Regions from separate parts of the Homo sapiens genome. Here all the other regions are linked to region 2. The links come from fine-mapping of genetic effects on plasma protein levels. A gene starts in region 2. Each other region holds a variant in brackets. All regions are shown on one strand. Distances are between the middles of the regions.

Region 1 (10,564 bases), 12 kb after region 2:
GGGAGGTTCCAACATGTTGCTGGCCCAAACACACTGGTGAGGGTGGCTGGTGATCCCAGTTGGGTGGTCACACCCAGTGAGGAGAAACAGGATCAGTGACTGCTATAAAAAAGCACTCTGGCCACTTTCTTGTAAAGCAGCTGTGCTGTGTTGAGGGTCCAACCAGCCCCCTCATAACCTCAGACTCTCCAACGCCCAAAAGTGACAACAGTGAAGGCTGTGAAGCAGCACAAATGGCAGCCTGCCTTTCCCTCTGGGAGCTCCATCCTAGGGAGGTACAGACGTGTTGTCAACTGGAAAACACCCGGTGGTTGTAAATCTTGGTTTTGAGATTCCAGCCAGTAAAGAGAAACAGGGTCTGGGATTCACATGGAAAGGCAATCTGGCCACTTTTCTGTAGAGCTGCTGTGCTCTGCCAGGGGACCACTCCAGTCCCTAGTCGCCTCAGACTCCCTGAAGGCAACAATGGCTAAGGCTGTAAGACAGCAAGGATGGTGGGCTATCCTTGCCTCTGGAAACCCCATCCCAGAGGGGTACAGACCTGTTGCCAGCTCAAAAACACTTGTGGAGGTGGTTGTGGACCTCAGTGAGGAGATTTTGCTCAGTGAAGAGAAATGGGATCCAAGACCCACGTGAAAAAAACAGTCTGGCAGCCTCCCTGTAGAGCAGCTGTGCTATTTTGGGGGCTTCTCCAATCCTTAGTCACCTTGGATTTTGGCAACAATGGCTAAGGCTGCAAAACAGCAAAAATGATGTCCAGCCCCTCCTTCTGAGAGATTCATCTCAGGGGAGGTATAACCTTGCTACCAGTGGCTGGCTGGAGTTCCAAGCCAGAGGGTCTTATCCTGTGAGGTGCCATGGAAGCAGGGCCTGCGGACAATCCCTGCTCAGCCCCTTGGATTCAGCCCCTTTCCTAGGGATGTAGAGATGTCTAAATTCCCAGCCACTTTTGCTGGGAAGCCCTGGTATCTAAGGCTCCCAGGGCTCTGCGTGTGCCTGAGAGGCTACTCTTCCAGGACTCCCTGTAGCTCTGTGTGTCAGACTGCAGGCCTTTGTGGGATGGGTTCACAAGGGGATCTCCTGACCCAAGGGTTGCAAAGATCCATGGGAGAATTGTGCTCCCCCAGGTGCTCAGTCACTCACTGCTTCCCTGGGTGGGGAAGGCTCCCCTGGCTCCATGTTGCTCCCGGGTGGGCAGTCGTCCTGCCTTGCTTTACTTCATCCTCCACGGATTGAGTTGTTTTCTTGATGAATCCCAATGTGTGTAACTGGATGCTTCAGTTGAAGGTGCTGTATTTACTAGCCCCTTCTATTTCTCCTGTGAGAACAGCACACACTAGCTGCTTCTAGTTGGCTACCTGCACTTGCTCAATATTATAACTTGAAGAAGACAAAAAAATACTGACAATTTTTTTGGCATTCTAAGACTAATTCTAAATACAAAAATAAATAAATAAAAGCAAAATTTAGGGGGAAAACATTTTCATTTTGGCATGGACTATGCCTGGAACCAGGAGATTTACCAGCCAGTCACCTAAGGGCAGATTTATTACTTAAGTCTCTTTAATCTTGGACTAGATGCTGCTTGGTCTTCATAGGAACAATCACATATTTTAGGAACAGATTTGCCTTCTATGCCTACAGTGCTTCTACTAACATCAATACTTAAGAGTTACAGAATGTCTTATCCATTGTCATGGTTCCTCACACAATATTGTATTTGACATTTTACAACAAAGAAAGATTGACAATCAGTTCATGCCTATAGAAGTTACTTGCCCAGTTGCTCAGGATCTCACACACATTCCATGGGCAGTTGGAGGTGAGCTGCCGCTGGCCACACCAGAGGCTGCAAGACCAGACATGGACAGGTACAAAGAAGAGCTGTGCCACTTGCACAACCCAGAGGAGAATTGATACATCCTTAACGTTGATTCAAGCAGTGATGAGAACCACGGGTCTTCTATGGCCAGAAGAGCTCAGAAGAGACAGTCCAGCTCTATGGTAGTGATCAACTCTGACTCTGATGATGAATGCTACTCCTATGAGGAGAAGAAAGCTAAGATATTCTAAATAAGCAGTGACGATGAGAGTCTGGAGTGTTGTTATGTGCAGCCCACCATCCAGGAACCCTCCAATAGTTATTAGTGATGGTGATGATGACAATGATGACAGTAATGATTTGGAAGTTTCTGTGCCAGCAGAAGATTCGTATGATGAGGACCAAACTGCCTCAGATGAAGAAGAGCTGGATGAGGCTGCTGTCTGCCAGCATGATTCATCTGATGATGCTGGTTGAGCATGATCTTGGTGAGAATCTTAGTGAACCACCAGGTGATCCTGAGACTAAACTTGAGGTTTCAGAGAGGAAGCTGCCAACTGAGGAAGTGCCTGCACCTGTGGTGGAATAATCAAGGAAAAGGAAGGCAAAGACCAAAAAATATCATGGGGTGACTGAGGAAAAGACAGGCAAAGACCAAAAATATAGTGGAGCCACTGAGGAAGAGGAAGGCAAAGACCAAAAATGTATCTGTAACACCTGCTGGTAAGGGACAGAAAAACCGTGGACCTTCAAAGAAGAAACCCGGTGTGGCCAAAGTTGAAAAATGCAAGACTAGGACTCATAAGCGCAAAGTCCCTGGATGTTTCTTGCTTGACCTTGAAAAGTCAAAACAGTACTCTGGAAAAAAATCTCAAGCGAAATAAGGATGAACTGGTTCAGAGAATCTACGACCTGTTTAACAGCTCCGTCTGTGATAAAAAGCTACCAGAGAAACTAGAGATCAGCTAGAATAAAAAGATGCTGAGAACTGCTGGCTTATGCAGCACTGGCAGGAATTACAAAGCAAGGCAGAATTCTTAAGGTTATCTGAGAGTATATTCGTGTGAGCTAAATCCTTTACTGGTAAGAAGTGTTAGAAAAGTTTGTTTTTGTGAAATTAAGGATATTAGAATTTAGATACTGTTAAGTAATATTAGAATTTAACATTCATGTTATTAACCATGATTGACCTTAACAAGGGGCTCTATTGCTAACCATTCTGTGCCCTTGACAGGGTAGATCTGAAGCCCTTGGGATCTACCTTGGGTCTTACTTCAGCTCAATAGTTTTCACACGTAGGACAAAATGCAAAAGAAAAGTGAGTTTTCAATAGTGGCAGGTTGAGAGAAAGAAGAGAATGCTGGATGGGAGGCTGAGGCGGGCGGATCACGAGGTCAGCAGATCGAGACCACCCTGGCTAACACGGTGAAACCCCATCTCTAATAAAAATACAAAAGAAAAAAAAATATTAGCCGGGCATGGTGTTGGGCCCAGCTACTTGGAAGGCTGAGGCAGGAGAATGGCGTGAACCTGAGAGGCGGAGATTGCAGTGAGCCGAGATCGCGCCACTGCACTCCAGCCTGGGAGACAGAGTGAGACTCCGTCTCAAAAAAAAAAAAAAAAAAGAAGAGAATGCTGGAAAGAGGACAAGTTTTAGAGGCAACACTTAAAAACCAGGGCTACTGTGACATCTACCTAGACAGGAAAGATGAACATGTTTCATGAAGTTCATTGCTGATGACACTGAATGAAACTATCTGAGCCATGTAATCAAAAAATAGAATGTTTTCTGCATCTCAAAAAAAAAAAAAGAAGTTACTTGCCCCTAAGTAACTGGCTAACCAGGGTATTGAAATGACTTCCTGAAAGCACACTAATGACACCAGTTGGAATAAAACAGCTTGCAAGTGTGGGATTCAGTTTTTTAAGAGGGGGTATTTGCCTTACCAATATATGTTGCTGTCTCTGCCATAGCCAGAATGTACAGGTATGGGAACAAAAGCATAGAGTTAGGATTCAGATTTGGAGTAGCCTTGTACTAGTACACCTAATAATTCACTTGAAAATTGTCTCCTTTTCCCAAGATCTTGTTTGTGCTGGGTTTAGAGGTTCTAATGCCTATGGCAAGATTATTCTAATAAGGAATATGACCATTATCCTGATGAACAGGAAGATGAGACTTCCTTGTTGCACGTTGGGCTCCGCAGTCATTGAAGCAGCTGGCAGAGAAGAAGATTGCTGTGGCCAGGCGCAGTGGCTCACAGTTTAATCTCAGCACTTTGGGAGGCCGAGGCGGGCAGATCACCTGAGATCAGGAGTTCGAGACCAGCCTGACCAACCTGGAGAAACCCCATCTCTACTAAAAATACAAAATCAGCTAGGCGTGGTGGCGTGTGCCTGTAATCCCAGCTATTCAGGAGGCTGAAGCAGGAGAATCACTTGAATCCAGGAGGCGGAGGTTTCAGTGAGCTGAGATCACGCCATTGCACTCCAGCCTGGGCAACAAGAGTGAAACTCCATCTCAAAAGAAGAAGAATAAGAAGAGGAATAAGAAGCAGCAGCAGCCGCAGCAGCCATACAGGCAGAAATTGGGTTGCTCTTACACATTGTGGTAAGGACTATGCCTGGAAGCCAGGAGATTTACAGGAGCGTATTTTAGCACCACTTTCCTCATAGTCTTGGTAAATACAATGCTAGGCCAACCCAAGAAACACACCAATAACTTGGATCCAATATAATGATAATCTAGGTCATTGCTTGATCCACACACTTTGTACAATTAGCTGGACAGAGTCAAAGAAAAGAAAGATGGAGTGCGTAGCAAGCTATACCTTGTCTCCTGCTACTCAAGTGGTATCTGCTGACAGAGAAATAGACCTCAACCACACAAAAAATCCACAGAAGTCCATCTGCGGCTCAGATAGAATCATCCTGGATATAGATAGCTCCTATCCCAGAGTCCTCTTGTCAAATCTTCTCTCAGAAGTTAGTGTAGAAATGATTAATCAAACCATAGCATGTTGAGACATTTCTGTTACTTCCACAAATAAATTTTGAATTCATTGAAATAACTGGCTTTTTACATTTAAGCTAGAAAGTAGTATATTAGAAAATAGGTAGGATTTGCCTTGTCAAGTTAAT[T/C]TGAAGGTGCAATTTCTATAGTTCTTGTTATCATCATGATTTATAAGAAAAGTATTCTTGTTTCATTTTATTTCTTTTTTATATTCTTATTGGTACATAATATTTTCATGTATCTCTAAGGTACATGTCATATTTTGATACATGCATCGGTTGTGTAATTATCAAGTCAGGGTGTTTAGGATATCCATCACCTCAAGCATTTATTATTTCTTTGTGTTGGGAACACTTCAAATCTTCTCATAACTATTTTGAAATATAAAATACATCGTCGTTAACTATAGTCACTCTACTATTCTGTTGAACACTAGAACTTATTCCTTCTAATTGTATGTTTGCATACCTCCCCCCTCCCACACACACACACACACATCCTTCACAGCTGCTAGTAACTATCATTCTACTCTTTACCTCCATTACAATAACCTTTTATGGTGGCAGCAAAGGGTGGGCTGGGCGGGCAGCCCTCGGGCCCCCAAAGGAGTGCAGATGTCAGCGGTGGTGGAAAGGCGGTCCCCAGGCCACTGAATGATGCACTTGGGCACTTGTGGGCCGTACCAGGCTTTGCGGGTCCAACCTCAGGCCTCCTGATGGTGCACACAGGCTGTGGTAGGTGGGGCTTGCGAGCAGCCAGGCTGGGTCTTCAGTCAGGCCTCCTGATGGTGCAGGAGCATACGCGGAGCTACGGGTGGGACAGGGCCATGGATCCCCAGGCCCCTGGGCAGTGTGCTCAGGCACTGGGAGAGGCTTTGCTTGGTGGTGTGGTCCTACCCTCAGACAACCCAATCCCCTATGTTGTGCTCAGGGCTCAGGCTGTGGTTGGCAGAGTGGGCAATCCCCAGGCGCCTCCCAGCGGCGTGCTTGGGTGGTGGCAGTCCCGGCTGTGGAGATGGCAGTGGGTGGAGAAAGCCTGTCGGTGCGCAGCTGCTTTGCTATTGGGAGTCGGGGTGGCTGTCAGTGGCAGCGACCTCACTCAAGTGGCTGTCAGGCTCTGGGGAGCTTGCGTTTTGGCTCCCTTTGACTGGAGGCAGCCTCCCCAGTGCACTGCACTGCCGATTCCCCCGGGGTGTAGAACACCTTTGGGGCTAGAGTGCCAGGGACCCAGCCACACGGCTGGCACCAATCAGCCTTGTGCCACTACAGCCCTCCCGGTGTGTGGGGTGTTGTGGGGGAAGTGAAGGATGTCTGCGGGGCTCCAGGGATGTGGAGATGCGGAAGCTGTTGAGACCCGAGGCAGGATGAAGTCTTGTTGGGGCTGGGCTCCAAATAGCCTGGTCCAGGAGGTGTGTGGGACCTCGCCTGAGCTCCGTCCTGGAACAGTGCTGTTGCGCGGTGCAGGCTCCAGGCAGCTCCCCATCCTAGTCTCGGGGCCCCCAGGGCTCTCCCATGGCTACGACTGCAGGAGTCTGCGGTGGGAATGTGGACACACTTTCCCTGCACTAAGAAGTCTCTGGGCTCCCAGACAGTTTCAGCTGAGCTACCTGCCTCCCCTCTGTCTCTTTCCTGCCTCAGAGCTTTCCTGTCGCTTCTCTGCTTAATTCGAATGTGTTCTTTTAGATGCTGTATTCCAAGTCTGATTTTCTACTGGGTGTTTTGGTTCTTCTTTGTGGAGGAAAGTACTGAGGGCCTGTAGACAGCCATCCTGAAGCCTCTCTCGGGGGAAAAATGTTTTCTTCCTCCGTATCATGAAATGTGTGAAAAGAGTCGAAATTGCGACCTTGTAAATTTGTTATTCTATTTTTTAAAATTCCAGCTGGGCGTGGGGGCCTGCGCTTGTACTCCCAGCTACTGGGGAGGCTGAGGTGGGAGGATCACATGCACAGAAGTTAAAAGCTGCAGTGAGCCCTGATCATACCACCGCACTCCAGCCTGGCTACAGAAAGAGTCCCCGTCTCGAAAATAATTAATTAATTTTAAAATCCTACAAGGTTTTTAGGAAGGAATTTTTGGTTAGATTTATATGTCAGTTAAGACATAAAAGAACCAGCATGGCACATGTATACATATGTAACTAACCTGCACATTGTGCACATGTACCCTAAAACTTAAAGTATAATAATAATAAATTAATTAATTAAAAAAATAAAAAAATAAAAAGACATAAAAGAGGGAATGCCATGAGACTGGCAGCAGGTTTCCACAGTGCACTTTGCTGCAAGGATATTCCCCCAAGCCTGGAGGGCAACCCAATGGCTGACCACCCACTCTGTGATCGGCCCATCCCCCATGGAAGTTTTACCTCTTGATGATGAATGCTCTCATATCCTCCAAGTGTACAAGCATTTGAAATGCTTAAACAACACTACAAAATTAAATGAATAAGTAACTGATTTGACAAATACGGTCAAACTGCATTAAAAGAGAAAGCAACAACAATATTCTGTCTCAAAACTGCCCCTGCTTATTAGGAAGTCAGACTGATTTCTTCCCACATCATAGGCAATTCCCATAAGTTTTCCATTCTCTCTAAGGTAATAAATATTATCCTCTGTATTTCAGGTGATAAAATATACCCCAAGGAACATGAAACAGACTCCCTGTGGGTAAAATAACAGAAACAGACAAACAAATGAGAAACCAGAATCTGATAGATAGCAGGATGAGGGACTAGTCAGGTATCCCAGGGTTATTAATTGCCATAAGTTTTCCTTCCCATAATTAAACAGGAAGGAAATACTGAAAAGCATTGCCAAAACAACCATAGCTGGGAAATTTCCAAAATATCTTGACAGATTGCCTGATGCCAGCGGACAACCTTCTCCCCAGCCTTGCTGTCCTGCCATAAGTCAGACTGTCCTACCATAACTCAGATTGGAAAAAGAACCCAATCTTTTTTTTTTTTTTTTTTTTTTTCCTGAGACGGCGTCTCGCTCTGTCGCCCAGGCTGGAGTGCAGTGGTGCAATCTGGGCTCACTGCAAGCTCTGACTCCCGGATTCACACCATTCTCCTGCCTCAGCCTCCCGAGTAGCTGGGACTACAGGCGCCCGCCACCACGTCTGGCTAATTTTATGTATTTTTAGTAGAGACGGGGTTTCACCATGTTAGCCAGGATTGTCGTGATCTCCTGACCTCATGATCCGCCCGCCTCGGCCTCCCAACGTGCTGGGATTACAGGCGTGAGCCACCGCGCCCGGCCAGACCCAATCTTATAAACATTCTTTATTGATGAATGGCCACAGACCTTAAACCAGTTACAGACAGCTTGTGGAGATTATGTACAAACTATTTTTGTACGCTATAGTTCACCTTTTGAGGTAAAGAGCCAAATTCCACCCGATTTAATGTTAAAACACCATCCCAAAGTGACCGTGGGGTGCATGTTACATCTGCTTACCCAATGCACTAGTGCTTGACTTCCTTCATGAATATTCATAAGTATTCACAGAATTTTCCCAACCCTGCTCAGTATGTATGTAAAACTGACTGTATAAGACATGTATACCAGCCCCCTCTCACTTCTTCAGAGAGTGAACTTTCGGATTTTCCCGAAAGCTGCATTTCCCTAATTCTAGGGTTATTTTTCCCTCTGAAAATAAAGTCTTCTCCTTTCCTTCCTTTGTGGATCTCATGGTCTTTTGATAATGAAGATAATAAAAGATCCAATTCCGCCTAATATCTTAAGTCCAACTTTTATCTAATTTAACACTTTTCCTCTCTCTCAGCTTGGATTGGATCTGCTTAGTTTGGGACCATTAAGGGGGCAAGTGAGTATAACGGGCTCTGCATGAGCTTCTTCCCTCTCTAGTATCTCTTTCCATTCCCCAACCCTGATCCCCAGAATGAGTGAAGGTGAAACAAAGGGAATAGAAATAAACACGGAATAAAGATGTTACCAGCCTGGACAGTTTTAATCTGTATGCTGACACTCCAAATGTTTTCTCTCTTTTTTTTTTTTTTTTTGGACTACTTCTATGGGTTTTTCAGAAATTCTGCTCCTGGGGTACTCTGCAGTTGTCTGATGTGTGATGTCTCCTTTGGCAATCCTGCTTGCAAATCACTGTACCTCACCCCTCACAACTCCCCAGGTACCTTTTTTTTTTTTGCTTTCTACTCTATACTTCCAGCTTCTTTTCATTGAGGCTGACTTGCCTGTGGTAAGAAGCAGTCTTAGGTGAATTTTATTTTAGGATGGTTCCCAAATGGCTGCTTTGTATGAGATCTTCATCCGGCCCACAGGAAACACTCCCTTCAGCCTCACCATTGCTGGAAGTGTGGCTTAATCTACACATCTGCTTTTACTCTGTGGTTATGTGTAGTTCTAACAAACTCACATACTGAAAGTGTTCACCTCTGCAACCTCCAACTCCCAGAGGACACTTGCCAATATATGACAGAATCCAAACTTGGCTTAAGGTAAAAGAGAAGTTCTTTTGCTTATTGACACAGAAAGATATTGGGAAATGGGAAGTACACTGGCAAGTCACTTCATAAAAAAAATTCTCACTTCCTAATCTCTGAACACTCATAAACTCTTAATGTGCTCTGAAAGTAGATGATAGATCGAAATTTGAAATAAACACTTTTGCAAGCTTGTTAGCATGTCCTATATAGGAGGTCTAGCACCTATAGAATTGTTCTTGACATTTGTGCCCTCAGATAAAAGTAAACAGCAGGAATGACCACATTTTAATATCCTACTAGTCATTCAATATTTATGAATTATTTTCTGAGGACTTATTACATGTCAGACACTGTTTGGGGAGTCTATTTTAGACTTCAAACATCTTTTAAAAACAAACATTTCATTAAACTATAGGTGAAAATTTAAGCATATAGTCATTAAGTTTGTGAATCAGACCTATCTTGGAGAGGAATTTAATTTGTTTAAATTTATCAAAGGACACACAAAAGATAAGCCCTAGTTATTCTAACCACTTATTAACACAGCTACCTGCGATTTCTGGGAGCTTAACTTCCGTTCAGGCTCAGAAACTCTAATTTTGGGAATATACTTGGACCACATTGTTAATTTGGGAGGATTCAGATAAAGTATGAGAAATGCATTCACATTTGACTATGAGAACATCAAGTTATATTGTATAATACCAAAAATAATGGTCCCTTGAATATATCCAGGATGACCTACAAACAGAATTGTTCCTAGATAAAAACCCTCAAGCTTGTAGAAAATCTATGTTGACACTCACTATTCAGATGTTGTCATTCACAACTCTGAGTTTCAGTGATTTAATGATGAAATTTAGGACTGAGAAGCTTGTTTCTTGCAGATTTATCAACCTTGCTAATTGATCTTTATGTCATTCTCCTTTTGTATACTTCAGGTAAATAAATAAATATTTGATTTATTCATGGGGTGATTTTGTTTGATACATTAATCCATAGGCACAGTCAATATTTTCAAAACAGTAGTTTTACATCAAATAAAGCAGCATTAAAAAAAACAGATTTATCAATAGAATAACAACTTTTGAAAGTGGAACTTATTTTTTTAAATCAATTTTCTTAACCTAAGTTTAAATCTAAGTAACCCGCTTTTTCCAACAATAATAACAATTTATCTTTGAATACTACACAAAATCTCATGACATAATCAAAATTAACTGGGGTATATGGATGCTTCTTTCAAGAATTGGTATCAATTC
Region 2 (10,564 bases):
TTAATCAAAAAAACCCTAAAATCCTTTGTAAGTCATGAATAATATTTCATCTTCTTATTAAATGCTAAACTTTTAAGAACTGTTTTATTTTTCATAGACTTACACTGTCAGGTTTAAGATAAGAGTGCTTGTTCAATGATTATTATTCAAGAAACTGCTATCATTGGACAGACAGTAGAGAGTCTCATCCAGAGGATTTAGGTCTGCTGGGCACTGACTTACGAAATTACATGAATAATTATGTTATACTGAATAAGTGAATATCTATACTTTGTGAAACATTTTGTCCTTATCAAAGATAATTTATGTAAATCTATCATAATAATTGATAAGAATCCTCTATTGTAACCGAAATTATTCTTATTGTTCAGTCAATAAATTGAATTATTAATGCTGAAATTTATATTCTAAATACTCTTTAAACCTGAGAAAATAGAGAAACTACATTTGACGCTGTCAAGCCCTGTCAAGAAAGCACATGATGAACCCTATAGAATGATATTTTAGATAAATAGTTCGCAGGGTTTCTCTTATCATAACATTGTCAAAGATATTAAAATAATTTTATCAGAATTCATTTAATGAATACTCCACATTTCTGAGATTATTTTTGAATTTTTGATATATTAATATTGATAAGCAATAAATTCCAAGAAATCAAGCATGTGTCTTAAAAAAGTCATATATTTATTTTAAAACTTAAAAAATAATTATCAGAAAACATTAGGAAAAAAAGTTGTGGAAGGTGGTTGAAATTCAACTCAGACTGAATTATTTCTCCTAAGCACTACAGGTTGTAGTGAGCTGAGATCGCGCCACTGCACTCCAGCCTGGGCGACAGAGCGAGACTCCATCTCAAAAAAATAATAATAAAATAAAAATAAAAGTAAAAAAAAATTTTAAAAGATGCTGAATAATGGAGAAAGTAAAACTTTCATTATCCTGTGTTTTCTCCTATAAGGAAATGGTTTAATTTAACTTATAAAGGTTAAAACACAAGCCTTTTAACCACCCAAAACCAGAAATAATAAAATGGAAAACCAAAATCAGTCTTATGAATGTCTGTACAAAAATGGTAAATACATTATCAGCAACCAAAATATATTATAACCATGATTGGTTTATTCTAGGAATATAAAGATTATTCAATAGGAGGAAATCCATATTAATATTATATTAATAAAGCTAAGGAAAAAAATCTATCATCATCTCAATAGATGTAAAAAATGAAATTGATAAAATCTTATATCTTTATGTTAAAAAACAGAAATTAATAGATACTTGTTCAACATAATAGTTTTATGTCTAATGAAGCTAACATCTTATTCAATTGAGAAAACTGAAAGAAGGTTTTCTGCTTAAGTCCAGAAAAAGAAAGATAGCTCAAATCTCCACTACTTTTTAATACGAAGAGGTAATATATAATTCAATGAAGAAAAATATTCTAATTACAGGTAGAAATATTAGAAAAAGAAGGTAAAATTATTTGAAGGTAATGTGAGTGCAGATTTGGTAAAATAAAAGAATCAATTGAAAAACTACCGTTAATTCCAGAAACAAAAAATAGTAGCTGCATTTATAAAAATAACATACTAAAATCAGTGCCCTGTATAATCCAGTAACCACTGTGAAAACATAGATGAAAGAAATTCATTACTCACGGATAGTTAACCAAAAAAAACAAACAAAAAGAAAACTAGACAGAAACTCGACAAGTGTCCCAACCCAATACAAACAAAACAAAACAAAACTAACCGAAAACTGAGTAACATTAATTTGATCATGTGCTTGGATAAGAAAACTATGTGTCAAAAATATAAATTCTCCCTAAGCTTAATGACAGACTAGGAAGTAATTTAGACGTAAAAGCTACATCGGGTTGTTTTATTTGTTGTTGTTTGTGGTGAGTGAGCCTGAATAATTTTTTATAAAGTTATCTGAAAGAACAAAAGAGTGAGAATAGCTAAGTAAACACTGGAAATATAGAAATACAAAATGGTAAATTTTATGAAGGGTGCTGGATTTATGCAAGGTGGATTTCTCTGAAAGTAATTTTTTAAACTTTTTAAATTCTTATTTATTTATTTGAGACAGGGTCTCGCTCTGTTGCTCAGGTTGGAGTGCAGTGGCACCATTAGAGCTCTTTGTAACCTTGAGCTCCTGGGCTCAGAGATCCTCCCTCCTGAGCACCCTGTGTAGCTAGGACTACAGGCATGTGCCACCATGACTGATTAATTTTTTTATCTCTATTGTTTGTAGAGATGGGGGTCTTGATTTGTTGCCCAGGCAGGTCTTGAACTCCTGGCCTCAAGCGATCATCCTGCCTCGGCCTTCCAAAGTGCTGGGATTAATGGCATGAGCCACCACACTTGGCCCCTCATTATATAAGTTTGACTGAAAATATGTAAATGTTTTATGCTACTATAAAGTAAGTTAAACAAAAATGAAAAAAAATCCATAAAAAATGAAGAAAAGGAATCTAACTAGGTATTGTTAGTGTCTTCACTATAGAGAGAGGAATTACTTAAAGTGATTTTAAAACATTTAACTGTGCATGCTCAATGGAATATATCTTAAGGATTTTTTAAAACCGCAAAACATTTTAATCTGTTTTAAGTAACTATTATTATAATATTATTTCTATAGTGATTCTGAAACTACTACATATGTATAGTGGGATAGAGCAATTATGTAATTTCTTACTATCACTGGCAACAAAGGTTTTTCAATATATGAGAAAAGATTTACAAATATGTCATCACAAAATTAAGTTAAATGAATGAACATCATAACCCCAAGGCTCACATTGTCAATCTAATTCACATAAAATACGTCTTACCTCAAGCTTTAATAAATATTAGCTAAAGGTACAAGACATAAATATTAGTATGTGTCACTTAAATATCTGGGAGCCGAAAATCTGCACATTTTTGCTTCAGAGAGACATTTATGAACAGAGTGTGGAAAAAAGTCTGCAGAGAAGTCACTACATGTTGTAGTCTTTCAGGTTTAATATCTCTAATTTCCAAAAATGAAATAAAAATTGAGTGTAGGAAGTAAAGACTTGAAAATATGGGAATCTAAAAATTCACATGGAAGAGGCAATAAATTTCTTATACATAGCACGTATGTAACTCTAAGATGAATCACTGATGGATGATACTTGTGGAAGGACTCAAGAGATAAGTAAAATTTTCATGGGTGAAGTTATTAAAAGAGAAATATTTAGAAAGCAACAGAACAGAACAGACAGTCTCTATAACTGTGATTATTTGTGTCTTTAATTTCTGCTTATCTCTTTTGCCAAATCACATTAAGGTGGCATGATGGAATTGCATTGTGTATGGAGGGTATGCTTGAAGTAGCAAATTAAAATGTTGATTGCTGGTGTATAAACTTTATTTTGAGTCAACTTGGTGAAAAGCATAAAGTTTTTGAGAAGTTGAATTAAAAATTAGTATTAAAGGCTGGGCGCGGTGGCTCATGCCTATAATCCCAACACTTTGGAAGACTCAGGTGGGTGGATCACCTGAGGTCAGGAGTTCAAGACCAGCCTGGCCAACATGGTAAAACCCCATCTCTACTAAAAACGCAAAAAATTAGCCAGGCATGGTGGCGGGCACCTATAATCTCAGCTACTCAGGAGGCTGAGGCAGGAGAATTGCTTGAACCTGGGAGGCAGAGGTTGCAGTGAGCCGAGATCATGCCATTGCACTCCAGCCTGGGCAACAACAGTGAAACTCCGTCTCAAAAAAAAAAAATAGCATTAAAACACCATATTCTATGAATGATAAGGAGGTGAATGGCAGCAAATATTCACTAATTTGAAATTATTAATTTTAATTGAGTATGCATATTTCCTCAGAGAATGTCCTTAAGAAATTATATCAGACAAAATATTACAAGTAAGTGTTAGTTCCACATTGATAAATGGGAGAGAGAGAGATTATCTCATAGTAAATTTGTAAGATTAAATGAAGGAACATAGATAAAACATTCTGTATAGTGCCGGAAACTGGTGTTTCTTAAATGGTAAGAGAGGTTGTTATTTTTAAATCATTATTAATATTGAAAGAGAGGACAGGTGAGAGAGATACAGAGACGGAGAAAGAAAAGCACCCAAATACTGAAACAGTCCAATAACACAATGGAACAGGATACGGGAAACTACCATGTTAATTCACACCAATTGAAAAAATGAAATTAAATTCCATACCTTTAAATGTAAGTTGAGATGTTTGGGCAGAACTCCTTTTCTTTGACTGTACATTCAATGTCATGTATCTTTCTTCATCTTGCATCTTCAATGTGAGTGAATGTGTGTGTATACAGGTATGTTTTGTTTTATTAAGTATAACATGAAATGAGGAAAGAATAATAAATCTGCTGCTAATCAGAGATGCTCCTCAAATTGTCCTTTCACAGTACATATGAGGGTTCACAGTTTCACTTATTTGTGAAAACCTCAGAGGAAATGTTTTCTTTTTAAAAGTTGCTTTCCCATGACATAGATAACACATAATTTCTCAACTGTCCACCACATATTGAATTGAATATTCTTTTGAGTGCTTTACAAATTTCTCTTAATTTACCCTTAAAGTCAAGGGAATGGAAATTATGCCCCTTTTTGAGGTGAGGTTAATAATATATAGCTGCCTTTTGTTATAGCCTAAATATTTATATCATTTGAATTAGCCTCCCTAACATATTGATATTTAATTTAATAATTTGCAATTGCCAAGCAATTAAATTCTTTATCCTAAAACAATATTGTTTATAAATCATGCTAATAATTTAACAGTATAATTTGATTTTTTTTAACTTTTAGGTTCAGGGCTACATGTGTAGGTTTGTTATATAGGTAAAATCATGTCACAGGGGTTTGTTGTACATATTATTTCATCACCCAGGTATTCAGACTAGTACTACATAGTTATGTTTTTCTGATCCTGCCCCTCCTCTCACCCTCCACCTTCAAGTAGGCTCCGGTGTCTGTCATTCTCCTCTATGTGTACATGTGTTCTCATCATTTAGATCCCAATTATTAGTGAGAACATGTGGTATTTGGTTTTCTGTTCCTCCATTAGTTTGTTAAGGGTAACGGCCTCTAGCTTCATCTATGTTCCTGCAATGGACATCATCTCATTCTTTTTTATAGCTGCATAGTATTCCTTTGTATATGTGTATCACATTTTCTTTATCCAGTCTACCATTGATGGGCATTTAGGTTGATTGCATGTCTTTGCTATTGTCAACAGTGCTGCCATGAACAGATGCATGCATGTGTCTTTATGATAGATTTATATTCCTTTGGGTATATACCAGTAATGGGATTGCTGGGTCAAATTTCTGGTTTTAGGTCTTTAAGGAATCACCATGCTATCTTTCATAATGGTTGAACTAATTTACACTCCCATCAAAGGTGTATAAGTGAACCCTTTTCTCCACTACCTCATCAGCATCTGTTATTTTTTGACTTTTTAATAATAGCCATTCGACTGGTATGAGATGGTATCTTACTGTGGTTTTAATTTGCATTTCCCTAATGATTAGTGCCTACTGGAGGATAGAGGGTGGGAAGAGGGAAAGGATCAGGAAAAATAACTAATGGGTACTAGGGTTAATACCTGGGTGAAGAAATAATCTTTACAGCAAACCCCCATTACACAAGTTTACCTATGTAACAAATTTGCACATGTACTCCCAAATTTAAAATAAAATTTTAAAAACACAATATACCCTTTTAAATAAGATAAACTATTAATTCAAGGAGAAAATATTTGACAAATTATCAGAAATATATTTGTTGCTTAATGACAAAAGTAAAAGGATAATACATTTTTGTGTTATTTTTGTTTATTTTTACTTGCTAAATTTTGTTCTTTAATTTATAATTACAATTTCTTTGGCCATTATTTGACACTCCAAATGGATAAGAAGTAAATTAAGATTGATAAATAAAACACGAAAAGTATCTGTTCATGTCCTTAGTCCACTTTTTAATGGGGTTGTTTATTTTTTGCTTGTTGATTGGTTTAAGTTTCTTACAGATGCTGGATATTAGACCTTTGTCAAATGCATAGTCTGCAAAAATTTTCTCCCATTCTGTAGATTATCTGTTCACTCTGTTGATAGTTTCTCTTGCTGTGCAGAAGCTCTTACAGTTAATTATTTTGTTTGTTTGTTTTGTTTTGTTTCACTTTTGTTGCAATTGCTTTTGGCATCTTTGTCATGAAATATTTGCCCATTCCTGTGTCCAGGATGGTAATTCCTAGGTTATCTTCCAGGGTTTTTTATATTTTGGGGTTTTAGACATAAGTATTTTATCCATCTTGAGTTGAGCTTTGTATATGGTATAAGGAAGGGGTCCACTTTCAATCTTCAGCATGTGGCTAGCCAGTTATCTCAGCACCATTTATTAAAAAGGGAATCCTTTTCCCATGGCTTGTTTTTGTCAGCTTTGCTGAAGATCAGATGGGTGTAGTTGTGCAGCACTATTTCTGGGCTTTCTGTCCAGTGGTCTATGTGTCTGCATTAGACCATTGTGTTCCAATGGTCTATGTGTCTGCTTTTTTTTTTTTTTTTACCAGTACCTTGTTATTTTGGATATTGTAGTACTGTAGTATAATTTGAAGTTGGGCAATGTGATGCCTCCAGTGTTGTTCTTTTTGCTTAGGATTGCCTTGGCTATTTGGGCTAATTTTTCTGTTCCAGATGAATTTTAAAATAGTTTTCTTCTAGTTCTGTGAAGAATGTCATTGGTAGTATGATAGGAATAGCATTAAATCTGTAAATTGCTTTGGGCAATATGACCATTTTAATGATATTTATTATTCTGATCCATGAGCATGGAATGTTTTTCATTTGTTTGTGTCATCTCTGATTTCTTTAAGCAATGTTTTGTAATTATCCTTGTAGAGCTCTTTCACCTCCCTGGTTGACTGTATTCCTATGTATTTTATTGTTTTTGTGGCTATCATAAATGGAATTGCATTCCTGATTTGGCTGTCAGCTTGGGTGTTGTGTATAGGTGTACAGGAATGTTGGTGATTTTTGTATGTTGATTTTGTATCCTGAAACTTTGCTGATGTTGTTTATCAGTTGAAGGAGCTTTTTGGCCAAGAGTATGGGGTTTTCTAGGTATATAATCATATGGTCTGAAAACAGGAATAGTTTTACGTCCTCTCTTCCTATTTGGATGCCCTTCATTTCTTTCTCTCACCTGATTGCTCTGGCAAGGATTTCCAATACTATGTTGAATAGGAATGTTGAGAGTGGGCATTCGTGTCTTGTGCTTTTCAAGGGGAATGCTTCCAGCTTTCACCTGTTCAGGATAATGTTGGCTGTGGGCTTATTACAGCTGGCTCTTATTATTTTGAGATGTTTCTGCAATACATAGTTTATTGAGTGATTTTAACATGAAAGCGTGTTGGTTTTATTGAAACCTCTTACTGTTTCTATTGAAATAATCATGTGATTTTTGTGTTTAGTTCTGTTTATGAAATGAGTCATATTTATTGAGTTGTGTATGTTGAACCAACCTTGCATCCCAGAGATAATGTCCACTTGATCATGGTGAATTAGCTCTTTGAGTGGTGCTGGATTCAGTTTGTCAGTATTTTGTTGAGAATTTTTGCATCTATGTTTTTCAAGGATGCCGGCCTCGAGTTTTCTTTTTTTTGTTGTGCTTCTGCCAGTTTTGGTATCAGGATGATGTTGGCCTCATAGAATGAGTTAGGGAGGAGTCCTTTCAACTCAAATTTTTGGAATAGTTTCCATGGGAATGGTACCAGCTCTGTACATCTGGCAGAATTTGGCTGTGAATCCATCTGAGCTTTTTTTGGTTGGTAGGCTATTTATTACTAATTCAATTTCAGAGCTCATTATTGGTCTGTTAAGGAAATCAATTTCCCCCTGGTTCGGTGTTGGGAGGCTGTATGTGTCCAGGAATTTATCTATATCTTCGAAGTTTTCTAGTTTGGTATACATAGAGGTGTTTGTAGTAGTCTTTGATGGTTATTTATATTTCATGGGGGTCAGTGGTACCATCCCCATTGTAGTTTCTAATTGTATTTATTTGAGTCTTCTCTCTTGTCTTCATTATTAGTCCAATGAGAGACTTTTTTTTTTTTCCAAAAAACCAACCCCTGGATTTGTTGATCTTTTTGATGTTTCTTTTGTATCTCAATCTCTTTCCGTTCAGCTCTGATTTTGGTTATATTTAGTCTTCTGCTACCTTTGAGGTTGGTTGGCTCTTACTTCTCCAGTTCTTTTAGTTATATGTTAGAGTGTTAAATTTGAGATCTTTCTAACTTTTTTGTGTAGGCGTTTAGCGCTATAAGTTTTTCTCTTAATACTGCCTTAGCTGTGTCTCAGAGATTCTGGTATGTCGTATCTTTGTTCTCATGAGTTTCAAAGAATGTTTCGATGTCTGCCTTAATTTCATTATTTATCCCCAAAGTCATTCAGGAGCATGTTGTTTAATTCCCATGTAATTGCATGGTTTTGAGTGATTTGTTTTGTCTTGATTTCTATTTTTATTGCGTTGTGGTCCAAGAATGTGTTTGGCATGATTTTGCTTTTTTTGTTTTTTGGTTTTTGAGTTTTTGTTTTTTTTTTTTGCATTTGCTAAGAATTGTTTTACATTCAATTGTGCGGTCAATTTTAGATTATGTGGCATGTGGCAATGAGAAGAATGTATATACTGGTTTTCTGGGTTCGGAGTACTGTAAAGGTCTATCAAATCCATTTGGTCCAATGTCAAGTTCAGGTTCTGAATATCTTTGTTAATTTGCTCCCTTGATGACCTGTCTGGAGTGTTAAAGTCTCCCACTATTATTTTGTAAATATTTAAGACTCTTTGTAGCTAAGAACTTGCTTTATGAATTTGGGTGCTCCTGTACTAGGTACATATATATTTGGGATAGTTAAGTCTTCTCGCTGAATTGAATTTATTATTATGTAATGTCCTTCTTTGTCTTTTTTCATCTTTATTGGTTTAAAGTCTGTTTTGTCTGAAATTAGGATTGCAAACCCTGTTTTTTTTTACTGATTTTCATTTGCTTGTTAGATTTTCCTCCATCCCTTTATTTCAAGCCTGTGTGTCATTGTGTGTGAGATGGTTCTACTGAAGATAGCATACCATTGAGCTTTGATTTTTTATCCAGCTTGCCACTCTGCACCTTTTAAATGGGGCAGCTAGTCTGTTTACATTCAAGGTTAGTATTCATATGTGTGGATTTGATCCTGTCATTGTATTGTTAGTTGGTTATTATGCCAGCTTGTATCTCCCCATCCCTTTCAGGGATGTCGATGATTTGTAGATTTGGCGCCTTTACATAATCCTATATTTCTCAAAGATTTTGTTCCTTCCTTTTCATTCTTTTTCCTTTGTTTTTGTCTGACTGTCTTATTTTAGAGGGCTAGTCTTCAAGTTCTTCAGCTTGGTCAATTCCACTGTCAATACTTGGAATTGTATTGTGAAATTCTTGTAATGTGTTTTCCAGCTCTAGCAGATCAGTTAGGTTCTTTTCTATAGTGGTTATTCTGTCTGTCAGCTTTTGTATTGTTTTAGTGTGATTCTTAGTTTTCTTGGATTGGGTTTTACCATTTTCCTGAATGCTGATGATCTTCATTTCTATCCATATTCGGAATTCTATTTCTGTCATTTCAGTCAGCTCTGCTGGTTTAAAACCCTTGTTGGATAACTAGCGCAGTCATTTGGAGGACATAAGAAACTCTGGCCATTTGAGTTGCTGGAGTTCTTGTGTTGCTTCTTTCTCTTCTCTGCATTTGAGTGTTTCTTTAGCCATGATGTAGATTGCATATAGTCAGTAGACTTCTTTTCTGGATGTATTCACAGGGTTGAGGCTTTGTGCAGGGTCTTTACTTGCAACTGACTTGTCTTTGGTCTCATAGTGGAGTGGGTGGTATGTTAGTGAAGTAGTTTGGTATTAAAGCTTTGGGATGTGATGCAGTAGGTTGTGCTTAGGCAGAGTGTTCAGTTGGTTGGCTCTTGATCAGTTGTGTGGCTCCCTTATATTTCTTCACAGTTGCAGCCATGCTGCCTCTCAATGCTCTGAAAGTTTGGGATCCTCTCCCACTTGAGTGTTGGCTGTAGATTATGGCTTGTCATTCCTGGGCTTTCCCCCACAGCTCTGGGGTGATCTCAGTGTTTATGTTTCCTCTCCAACTTGGAGGCAGCAGCAGAAGGGACCTTAGGAGTGGTTGTGGCTGAAGGTCTTTTATTTACCTCCTAGGGGCTCTACCCCAGAGAGGTGTGGGTCAGCAATTGCTCAGTGCAGTCTGCCCAGGATGGGGGTATCTGTGCTATGGGCCCAAACCAGGGTTTCTCTGCTTGGTGATGAGCAGGGGAAGTGTGCAGGACCTGTGGGAGATGAACTTTGCTCCTCTCCTTGGGTCGACTGTTGCTTGATGGGGGTATGGATAAGGTAGTTAGGGTCTTTGCTCCTTCATTAGTCTGAGGGTAGCAGGAGTAGTACCGCTGCAGAGGCAGTGGCAGATGGGCTTTTGGTTGCCCCTGGGGGTCTCATGTCTGAGGAAT
Region 3 (10,564 bases), 33 kb after region 2:
AGCTTTGCTCTTAATAATACCTGAGCATTGAAGACCGTTTTCCCCAAAATAGCTTCTACCATACACGCATTCATTCTTTCACTCATTCACTCACTCAATATCAATTTAATACCTAGAATGTTTCAGATATTGAAAGAACAATAACTTAAGATCAATGATTTATAATTGAGAAAGGAAATGTCAAATATCGGTGATGGAGGTTATTCTTACCTAATTTCTATTTTTTAATTTATATACCATTAATACTTTATGAAACACATGAAATAGAAGAGTCTATAACTTTTATTTGTGTATTTCTAACATCTGTCAGTTTCTGGCCCACTTGTTTGTCTAATAAGTGTTTGACTAATGATCAAATGGAAAATAGAATCTGGTGAAGGTGTCCAAACGCAGAAAGGAAGGTGTTTACAGGGAGGACAATATGAGAGCCCAGCACTTTACCTCCTGACCACACAGTAGCAGGTGTTTCCTTAAGGCCTCACACCACCACTAGAGAGCAACAGTTCACAAGCGAACTGAAGGTCTACGTGCAAGAGCCCTTGCAGGAATGCAGAAGAACAGGAAGGCTGTGAGGTGTAGGCCTTGTGTCAGAAATTGGTCTGAGGAGCTCATTTACTCCAAGGCAGTTATTTGAAACACAAAATCAAGTGATGTGCTTTAATTCGCTGGCCCTGTGCCCTCTATTATTTAACCCGATTCTTTCTTCGAGTCATACAAAACAATTACTCTAATTATTTTTTTAAAATATTTTTAAGCATCTGTCCTGATCTGGTCATTGTGCTCAGTATTGCCACACTGCCTATTATTATGTGCCTGCATTCACCATCTGTTATACAGCAGGAATAATGAATAGTTTCATCTTTTAAATTTTAGTTTTTAGGATTATCTCCCCCTCCAAAAACATTGAAATGATTACAATTATATAAATTAAAGTAATTTTGATTTAGGATATCCCCCTACTATTAAATACCAAATAAGACAACTGAATATGCATTTCAAGTTTATGAATGCAAATAAACATATATGTTAATGATTAGGAACCCTCTTGTATTAGAGTCAATTGCCCTCAAGCTGGTAAAGAAATTAGAGTTTCTTTTTCCCAGCTTTATTATATAAAAAGTTTATATGCCACAAATAGGCTAATTTGATTGCTTTATAAACATATTGCCTCTTTAAAATACAAAGTAAAATAACTTGCAAAAGGAACTTGAAATCTGTCAATGTCAATCTGTTCTAGCACAATCTATCCCAAATCTTCAATAGGCCTGAAAACTCCAACATTACTGTAAATTCATTTATTTTCTTTCTTTCTTTAAGGAATAAAAAAGAGAGTTAGTAACTTACTCTGTTAGGCATTGCGCCAAAGTAAGTTCCACTAAAATTTGTGTAAACGTTCAATGTGGTGTTTATTTTTTTTTTCTGAGAATTCCTTGTCCTAAATGATGCTTACTTCCTGTTTAACATTTACGAAGAAAACAATATGCAACACATACTTTAGCTGAAGTTATAATGGAGTTATCATTACAGTTCATTACAGCCAGTCCTTGTTACCCAAGATTAGATGCATAAAAGGCTGATCGCCGGCCCCTGCCTTTTGAAAGCTACCTAATTGTAAACGACAGCATGTATTAGATTGGTGCAAAAGTCATTGCAGTTTTTGCCATAATTTCAACAGCAAAATGAATATGCCTGCTCCCCCCAAAAATGTGGTTGGAATACTCGTAAAAAAGAAGAAAAAAAATTATTCACAGAGGTCTAAAATCCTGAAACCAGCTCAAAGAGTATCTGAATGTTTATATTGTTTTGAATTGAATAAAATGAGCAGTGAAAAAAAACAGACAGAAGTATGTCTGTTTCCAATTTATTCTGTGTCCTGGAAATAAATTTTTTCTCATTTTTTCTTTAAAATGAAATTCACACACACACACACACTTATGGGAAGAAATTAACAAAAGATCTCTAACCAGAGAGTATAAAATTTCAGGCAGTCTCATGAAAATAATTCACCATAAATCCTCCACTATCAAATGATTACATAGGAAACTGCATATTATAGTTACAATTATGAGTACTTTAAAGAAAACACCTAAGAAAGTTAATATGAAACACAAAACAACCCTTATGTGTAATTCACATGAAGAGATTGATAGTGGTAGAGTCAGCGGCAGCATTAGAAGTGGTAAAGATGGTGATGTTGATATCACTAGTATTATCGATACTACTTCTCTAGCAACCAAAGGAAGGAAGTGTATAAAGGAAAAGTAAAGATCAATTACGTCAAATTTTTCTGAGAAGCCCGGTAAGAAGAAAACCGAAAATTAAATATATAATATAGCAACATATCAGTAATTATTTAATACCTTGACAAAATCAGAACAAAAATTATTCTGAGAGTTATCCAGAAGAATAATTACAGCAGAAAAGCCAAGATGGTTTTTCCTCCTAAAGGAAGAAAATGGTGGGGTCTTTAAATGACAGATATTAAATAATGACAATCAAAACAACAATGGTAGTGTCTTCCCAGACAAATTCAATCACCATTCAGATCTCAGCTCAATTTTTAATTTGTGGATAATCAGAAGGGATGTGGACTGACACTGTCAATCATGTGGTTCTTCCTAAAACCCATGTAAAAGCCAATGCGTTCGTCCTCACAGTATTCCAGTGGTTGACATACTCCCCCTCCTTGATTTCCACCATTCTCCTGTAGAAAATATATGAAAAGTGTTGAGGATGTAAACTTAAATCATGATAAATGTTTGGTGGTTAACTGATGCAACAAGAGGAATCAATACAAGACACGCTATTTGAAAAAGTTCTATTTCTCAGGCTAGACCTCCTGGCCAGGATGCTGCCAATATCACCTGCCCAGAAAAAAAGAGCTGGAGATTTTTCAGCGAGCTCAGGCTGAGTATATATTGGACCACTGGAAATGAAATTTTGAGAGGTACAGAGTCACGGTACCTTTCAAAGCAGGGTAAAACCAAAGAGAATATATGGTACACGAAGGTAAGAAGGCTTCTGCTTCTTACTTCTTGGACTTGCTATCTGCATATCACGTCTGCAGTGCCTTTTTCTCTCAGGAGCACTACCATACTTACAAATGAGAAATCTAGAAGAAATCTGGATTATTCAGAGAAGTCCTCTCTGATCACATCTTTTAATATAATCATCCTCGATCTACCCACTCTCGCTCACTATCATATGTACACATCGATGTCTGTATTAATTAAACAAATACTTATTGAACATCTGCTATCACCTGGCAATGTTCTCGGCACTAGGTATATAGCAATTAGTACAAGAAAACTGATGCCCTTATGCTGCTTACATTCAAATGAAGGGAGATAGGCAGCAAACAGAACAATCTTATACTAATAATTCGGCTGGAGGAAAAGTGCCTTGAAGAAACAAAGCAGGGTCCAGGCATAAATATGGGGGTCCAGGGAGTTCTTTACCATTGCTTCAAGACAGAAGCAGAAAGATCACAATTAAAACACTGTTAACGATAGCAGGCAATTGTTGGTGTTAGCGTGAAATGTGAAATACAGTGGTCGCAGTGGACGTATGATTCTGTGTGCATTGCTCACTGAGGGTTAGATGTTGTGTTTAGGAGAGAGAGGACAAAGTTGTCTCAGGAGTTTTTGATATGTGTGAATGTGATAAAACTACCATTGAGATATGAAAAGCTGGAGAATAAGCTGGTATGAAAGGCAAAATGAGAAGATGAGCTTTTAACATTTTAAATTCAAAATGTCAATTTGACACTGAAGTAGAGAGTGTGACTAAGCGGTTGCCAGACAAATATGGAATGCAAAAAGGAGGTCAAAGCTGAAAAACAGGTCGTAAGAATATGGAAGGCATTAATGCTATGGGCTGGATGAGATAATCTAGGAAGCTTGTGCAGATAAAGTAGAAGAAAACAAAGGGGTGAAAAGGGCTTCTTCAGAGAAATGACTAGTGACATAGAAGAAAAGTTTCATGCAAGCCAAACTGAGAGAGAGAAACAGAAAGAGAAAGAAATGGAAATCAAGATGAAAACAGAGAACCAGTCATTAGTTTTGTAAAATGAAGGTCATTGGTGGTCTTGACAGGAATAGTTTAGGGTGCAGTACTAACTACAAAAGCCTGTTTCAAGTGGGTTATGTTTTTTAAATGAGACATTTCAGCATGATTTTTTATTTCCCCAGCTAAATACACCTATTAAGGTGCAGGTGTAGTGTAATCAGAAAAGTAGATTTAATTGCTGGGGAATTATATAAGCCAAATTATATTAGTCAAATCACACAGCTGTGACAAGAGACAGTAATTTCATCATTGTCATGATACAAAGGTGATTCCGCTGTTACTAACAGGATTTTACAATCCCAGCCCACTTAGTGCTCATATAAACACAGATATTTTAAGAAAAACAATTTGTTGCTTCACTGAAATTCAAGGTACGTTGGGTTCTATATTTATTCTTCTTATTAATGTTCTCATTTTATCTTCTTTTAAATTAATTCAATTATTTGCTAGTTTGACATATTTTGTATTAGGCTTTTCTTATACTAAAAAGTGTAACAAACTATGACAATAACCTTGAATGAAATTGTAAACCGCCAATACCTCCAAAAATACCCTTGAAATTTGTAACTTCTTGTTTCTAAGAAAAGAAGTTAAATTGACTTCCTATAAATTACATAGTTTTGTGGTGAAATGAAGAGAAACGTGTATAGGAAACAGATG[C/T]GTAGGAGTTACTTCCTTATTTGGTTGCAAATGAATTCTGAAGTTTCGAAGAAAGGTAGAAGGTGAGTTTTCCTAAAACCAGGACATTCAAAAACCGTTCCAACATCCAAAGCAAGACTGAGAAGTATATTTCCTACAACTGGTTTATCACACGGCTCCTTAGCCCCTTTATTAGAACTTTTCCTTTTATCACCTTGTGTAATTGTGTAATCATATTATTTTATGATCACTTTTTTTGCAGGTAAAATGCTTTATTTATAAGGCTTATATGTATAAAATTCAACTGTAGACACACAGGTCGGAGACTATGTTAATTCATTTTTTATCTCCCATGGTTCTTACTTTCCTGATATTCATCGTGAAGCATGGGGCAATAGTACTTTTTAGTATTAACATGTAGGTAAACAAAGATATTTCCTATTTTATGCATCAATTTAATATTTGATATGTTCTGCTGTACTTCTGGATACAAAGTGCTCCTTGATTTTATCATTCAATTCCATTTGACTCAGTACACCTATGACTCAAACCAACCATGTGGTCAATGGAAAAAACACAGAGATACGGCCTTAGCCACTATAGTCAAAGGTATACATTTTGTCTTTACAGCCACTTTCCTGTCTATTTCTTTGGAAAAAATCATTTGCCTACATAATATGGTCCTGGGAGGTTTTCAGTCAGAATATACCATCCTCCTGGTTGAAATGATTACTTTAAAAATGGCAGATGAAGCTTCCAATGCAATAAAATATTGATCTACATACTCTGATGACAGTAAATAGAACTATGTTTGCTTTTTATCTGTATGACTCATGTTTATGGTTTCCTACAAAATGTTCATTTCTGTGTGTTTATCAGAGAGTCAAAACATTCCTTATGATTATCCCCCAAAAAATGCCAGATGCAAGGAGTTGGAGGAGCAGATCTTGTTGAGATACAGGCTGCAGAGAAATTCCGTTTGCTCATTCTTTTGTAGTATTGATTGGTATGGCTCTTAGGGAGTAAAATGATATGTATCATCCAAAAAATAAATACATCAAGAATGATATCCCAATTTTTTGCTAGGATTTGTCCCCAAATTTCTTCAGGCTGTGTTACAGGTCAGGTTCCTCAAAAACAGACTCTCAGATGAAGGATTACATAAAGGATGTTAAGTACCTGTGGATGAGAAAGAAAGGATTGGGCAAAGGCAGATATTGAATTGTGATGCAGTAACACAAAGGCTTCAGCTAACAGTATAGGGAGCTCTGGAGGTGAGTGCCCTTTCAAGTTTATCTTGATATAAGGCAACAAGTCCAAGCTTTTATACTCCCACACGAACCAGCCGTTTGATACATCTGGCACTGGGAGAAAGTGTGACTTTGAGAAGGCACTTCTGTTTAGCTGAGAGCCATACAAGGAAGATTCAGTTGAAAGCTTCTGACTCCCAGGTGCTGAGACAATGAGGCTTCAGTCCAAAGTGGAGACACACCATTGCACCCATTGTAAATGGAAAACCAGTTTTTAAATCAAAAGATAAGGAAGACATATATATATATATACACACACACACACACATATATATACATATATACACACATATATGCAGATAGATAGATAGATAGATGGATAGATAGATAGATAGATAGATAGATAGATAGATAGATAGATAAATTTTCCTGATCAGACTCCTTTGCTTAGGGCTAGCAGCATATATCCAAAAGTCCATTAAAATATCCAACTCAATCTCCCACATATTCCAGAAACAAAAGTGATCATTTTGATTCTTTTCTAAATCTAATTTTACCCCCTAATTTCTGACTCATTTGAAAGAATACTGCCCACAGTTTTAGGAATCAAAGCATGAAGGCCATCCTTGACTCTCTGTCTGCATTTTTTTCTGATTAAATGACCCTACCTAATAAATCATAGACTGTAATGACTAGTAATGTCTTTAATTCAACAACTTTCCATCATCTCTACTTCCACTGCATTGGTCTTAAAGGCAGTCATCTCTCTATGGTATCCCTTTATTCCAGTTCATCTTGCACCTGTTAGACTGAGTAACTTCCAAAAATTGCACCTGTTAACTTCCAAAAATTAATATCTAATTGCAATTTGTCCCAAATTTATAAGAATTTATTACTTTCTTTCTGCACTTAGAATAATTCCAGACTATTTAACAGCATTGATTTCACCCTGTAATCTGGCTTTGTCTCTTGTTCCATTCTTCAGTCTCACTGTAGTGGACCATTCTTTCTCCCATCTCTAAGACTTGTACATTTTACCCTTGTCTACAAAGTTGTTGTTGTTGTTGTTTTTCCTCTGCCTTATTCACCTGGAAAACTGTCTCATCTTTCACTTCTCAGATTAAATATTTACATAATTTTATAGAATGCCACCTTGAGAATAAATTCTCCAAGATGTGTTCTACATGCCCTCATAATTACCTGCTTAATTGTCTTGCCAGACATGAGCAGAAACAGTGGAATAAAGACCTACAAAAAGCTATTCCTTCATAAAATCAACAAGAACATTGACAAAAACTGTCAAAACAAACTTCCTCAGAATACTGTGAATTAACCAAAGACTTGCAAAAATCTGGCAAGCATTTACTCAAGAAAATAGGTGAATTTAATTGAAAACAGTGACCTTTGTGGAGATTTAACTTGCTCTATTCCTATTCCGTATTCCTCAGCTTCACAGTAGCCTTGAAAAACTATAGTAGGTCTTACAACTATAGTAGCAGTAGTGAACTGTAGCCCAACAGGTCTCAGAGGGGCCATAAAGGGTTTAGAAGTCCCAAAAATTATTCTTAGAGTACTGTCATTATTCAAACTATCAAACATGATCTTGGAAATTCCCACCTACGACTTTAGTTGATCTCAAACAGAGCTCGCTCAGTGCAAATGACTTTTTCCCTAGGGGTATTTGACAAAAACAATCAGCACCTATTGCTGTACATTGCAGCTGCTTAATATGGAATAACAGCTGGGGCAAAGGAAAAGCTGACCAAAAAACTTAAGAGGGAAACTTAAGGGATGGGCTGCCTATAGTAGTTCATTGAAATGATACAAAATATTGATACAGCTTCAATGAATGGAGGAACACCAGAGTCCTTTGTCTCACGCCAATTTAGATAAGACAACATGGACACACATGGAGTGGTTTTAAGGAACAGAGAGTTTAATAGGCAAGAAAGAAAGAAGAAGCTCCCAGCTACAGAGACGGGGGGTCGGTGAGGGGTGGGGGTGGCTCCAAGCAGAGAGAGGAAACCCCAAGTATGGTGGAAACAATCTGTTATATTAGAAGGCTGGAGGAGGTGGTGTCTGATTTTTATAGGCCCAGGGGATTGGTTTGACTTAGTATGTCATTCACATAGCCTGCAAAAAAACTGGCTCTCCCACCCTAGTCTTTTAATATGCAAATGCAGGCCGCCATGATTTTCTGCACAGTGGAGACCTCTGGGGGTGCCATGATGCTTGGCACATGTGGTGACAAGGAGAAGAAGGTGGGACTTGCCATATTGGATGGACCCAGCTTCTAATAGCCAGCATTTGCATATCAAAGCTTGCTGGCTTGGCCCTTCAAGCCATTTTTTTGCTAAAAAAGAAATGTTTCTGGAGCTGCTTTTATTTAAAGAAAAAAACCTTACCAAGGACCACTTATCCTATCTGCCTGAAATAATTTCTTAATAATTTCTATAATAATATGATCATCAATATCATGAAAATGACCACACTGCCCAAAGCAATCTACTGATTCAATGCAATTCCCATGAAAATATCAACATCATTTTTCACAGAACTACAGAAAACAATTCTAAAATTCATATGGAACCAAAAAAAGAGCCTGAATAGCCAAAGCAATCCTAAGTAAAAAGAACAAATCTGGAGGCATCACATTACCTGACTTCAAATTATACTACAAGGCTATCATAAACAAAACAGCATGGTACTGGTATAAAATTAAATACGTAAGCCAATGGAACAGGATAGATAGATAACCCAGAAATTAAGCCAAATACTTATAACCAACTGATCTTTGACAAAATGTACGTAGATTGGGGAAATAATTCAATAAATGGTGCTGGAAAAACTGGACAGCCACATGTAGAAGAAAGAAACTGTATCCCTATGCCTCACTATATACAAAAATCAACTCAAGATGGATTAAAGACTTAAATCTGAGGCTTGATACCATAAAAATTCTAGAAGAAAACCTAAAGAAAAACTCTTCTGAACATTGGGTTAGGCAAAGAGCTTATGATTAATACTCCAAAAGAAAAGGTAACAAAACAAAAATAAATAAATGGGACCTAATTAAATGAAAAAGCTTCTGCACACCAAAAGACATAATCAGAGTAAACAGATAACCCACAGAATTGGAGAAAATATTTGCAAACTAAGCATCTAACAAAAGACTAATATCCAGAGTTTATAAAGAACTCAAACAAATCAGCAAGAAAACAAATAATTCCATCAAAAAGTGAGCAAATTGTATAAATAGACACTTCTCAAAAGAAGATATACAAATGGCCAACAAACATGAAAAATGCTCAATATCACTAATAATCAGGGAAATGCAAATTACAATCACAATGAGATACAATCTAACTCCTGCAAGAATGGCTGTAATTACAAAACTGGAAAACTCTGGATGTTGACATAGATATGCTACAAAGGAAACACTTATACACTCCTTGTGAAAATGTAAATTAATAAAAACCCTATGGAGAATAGTACAGAGATTTCTCGAAGAACTAAAGTAGACCTGCCATTTGATCTAGCAATCCTATTACCAGAATTAACAATCCAAGTTAAATATAAATTAAAAGAATTTGTTATTAGCAGATTTGTCTTACAATAAATGCTACAGAGAGTCCGTCAGACTGAAATAAAAGGACAACTAGGAAGTAACTTGAATCCACATGAAAACATAGAGATCATTGGTAAAGGTAACTATATGAGTAAATATAAAAGACAATATTAATGTATTTTTGTTTAATAATTATATTTTTTTGCTAACTTATTAAAATAAAATTGCATAAAGCAATAATTGTAAATGTGTATAGATGCATACTTTATAGACTTGCATAGATATTTAATGTATAAAGCTGTAATTTATATGGCAACAATAAAGACAGTGGGAGGGTCCAGAGCTATCCAAGAGTAAAGTTTGGAGATACTGTTAAAATTAAGATTGTATTAATCTTACCTAGATTGTTATGAATTAGAATGTTAATGGTAATCCCCCAGAAAAACCACTAAAGAAATAGCTGAGAAAATGTATTAAAATAAAACAATATAGTTAAATTGGAGAAAATATCTATTTAACACAAAAGAATATAGTAATGGAATGATAAAGAAATAAGAAGACATAAGACATATAGAAAACAACAAAAGTCGGATTTAAACTCTAACAAATCAGTTATTACATTAAATTTAGATGGATTCAACATCGTGATCTAAAGGTAGATATTGGTGGAGGCTGGGAGCACTGGCTCATGCCTGTAATCTTAGCACTTGGAAGGTTGAGGTGAAAGAATCACATGAGGCCAGGAGACCAGTCTGGGCAACATAGTGAAACCCATCTCTACGAAACCCTTTGTTGAAAAATTAGCCAGGGGTGGTGGTGCACACCTGTAGGATTAGGCAGGAGGATCACTTGAGCCCACAAGTTCAAGGCCACAGTGAGCTATGATCATGCCACTGCACCCCAGCATGGGAGACAGAGTGAGACACTGCTTCCGGAAAAAAAAAAAAGGCAGATATTAGAAAAATTGACACAAAATGGGATCCAACTAAGTGCTGTATACATGAGACACATCAAGGTTTAAAACACACAAATAGTTAGA

Alleles and levels. Alleles are on the strand shown, and positions count from the first base shown. The strength of an association depends on the size of the effect and on how common the allele is.
With allele C in place of T in region 1, the plasma level of the protein whose gene starts at base 4,365 in region 2 is higher (weak association).
With allele T in place of C in region 3, the plasma level of the protein whose gene starts at base 4,365 in region 2 is lower (weak association).

Evidence for each region. A credible set is the group of variants that fine-mapping cannot tell apart. PIP is the posterior inclusion probability: the model's chance that the variant is causal. Protein levels are from antibody-based Olink assays in UK Biobank. Linkage for the fine-mapping came from a reference panel and not from the study's own genotypes, which makes the PIPs less certain.
Region 1: its variant is the best candidate, but not a certain one, in a credible set for the plasma level of the KLRF1 protein (UK Biobank, PIP 0.89).
Region 3: its variant is the best candidate, but not a certain one, in a credible set for the plasma level of the KLRF1 protein (UK Biobank, PIP 0.78).

Annotation. Positions count from the first base shown.
Region 1 is chr12:9,809,617-9,820,180 of GRCh38, reverse strand. It overlaps a transcript of KLRF1 not described here and the pseudogene GCNAP1. Among named protein-coding and RNA genes, the nearest start is that of KLRF1, 13 kb to the left of the region's middle. The variant T/C (reference allele first, on the strand shown) is at 4,964.
Region 2 is chr12:9,821,282-9,831,845 of GRCh38, reverse strand. It overlaps KLRF1 (killer cell lectin like receptor F1), which reads right to left and starts at 4,365. Exons shown (of 6, transcript NM_016523.3): 1 at 4,217-4,365. The coding sequence starts at 4,301.
Region 3 is chr12:9,788,145-9,798,708 of GRCh38, reverse strand. No RefSeq gene overlaps it. Among named protein-coding and RNA genes, the nearest start is that of CD69, 33 kb to the right of the region's middle. RefSeq lists an enhancer at 556-655. The variant C/T (reference allele first, on the strand shown) is at 4,729.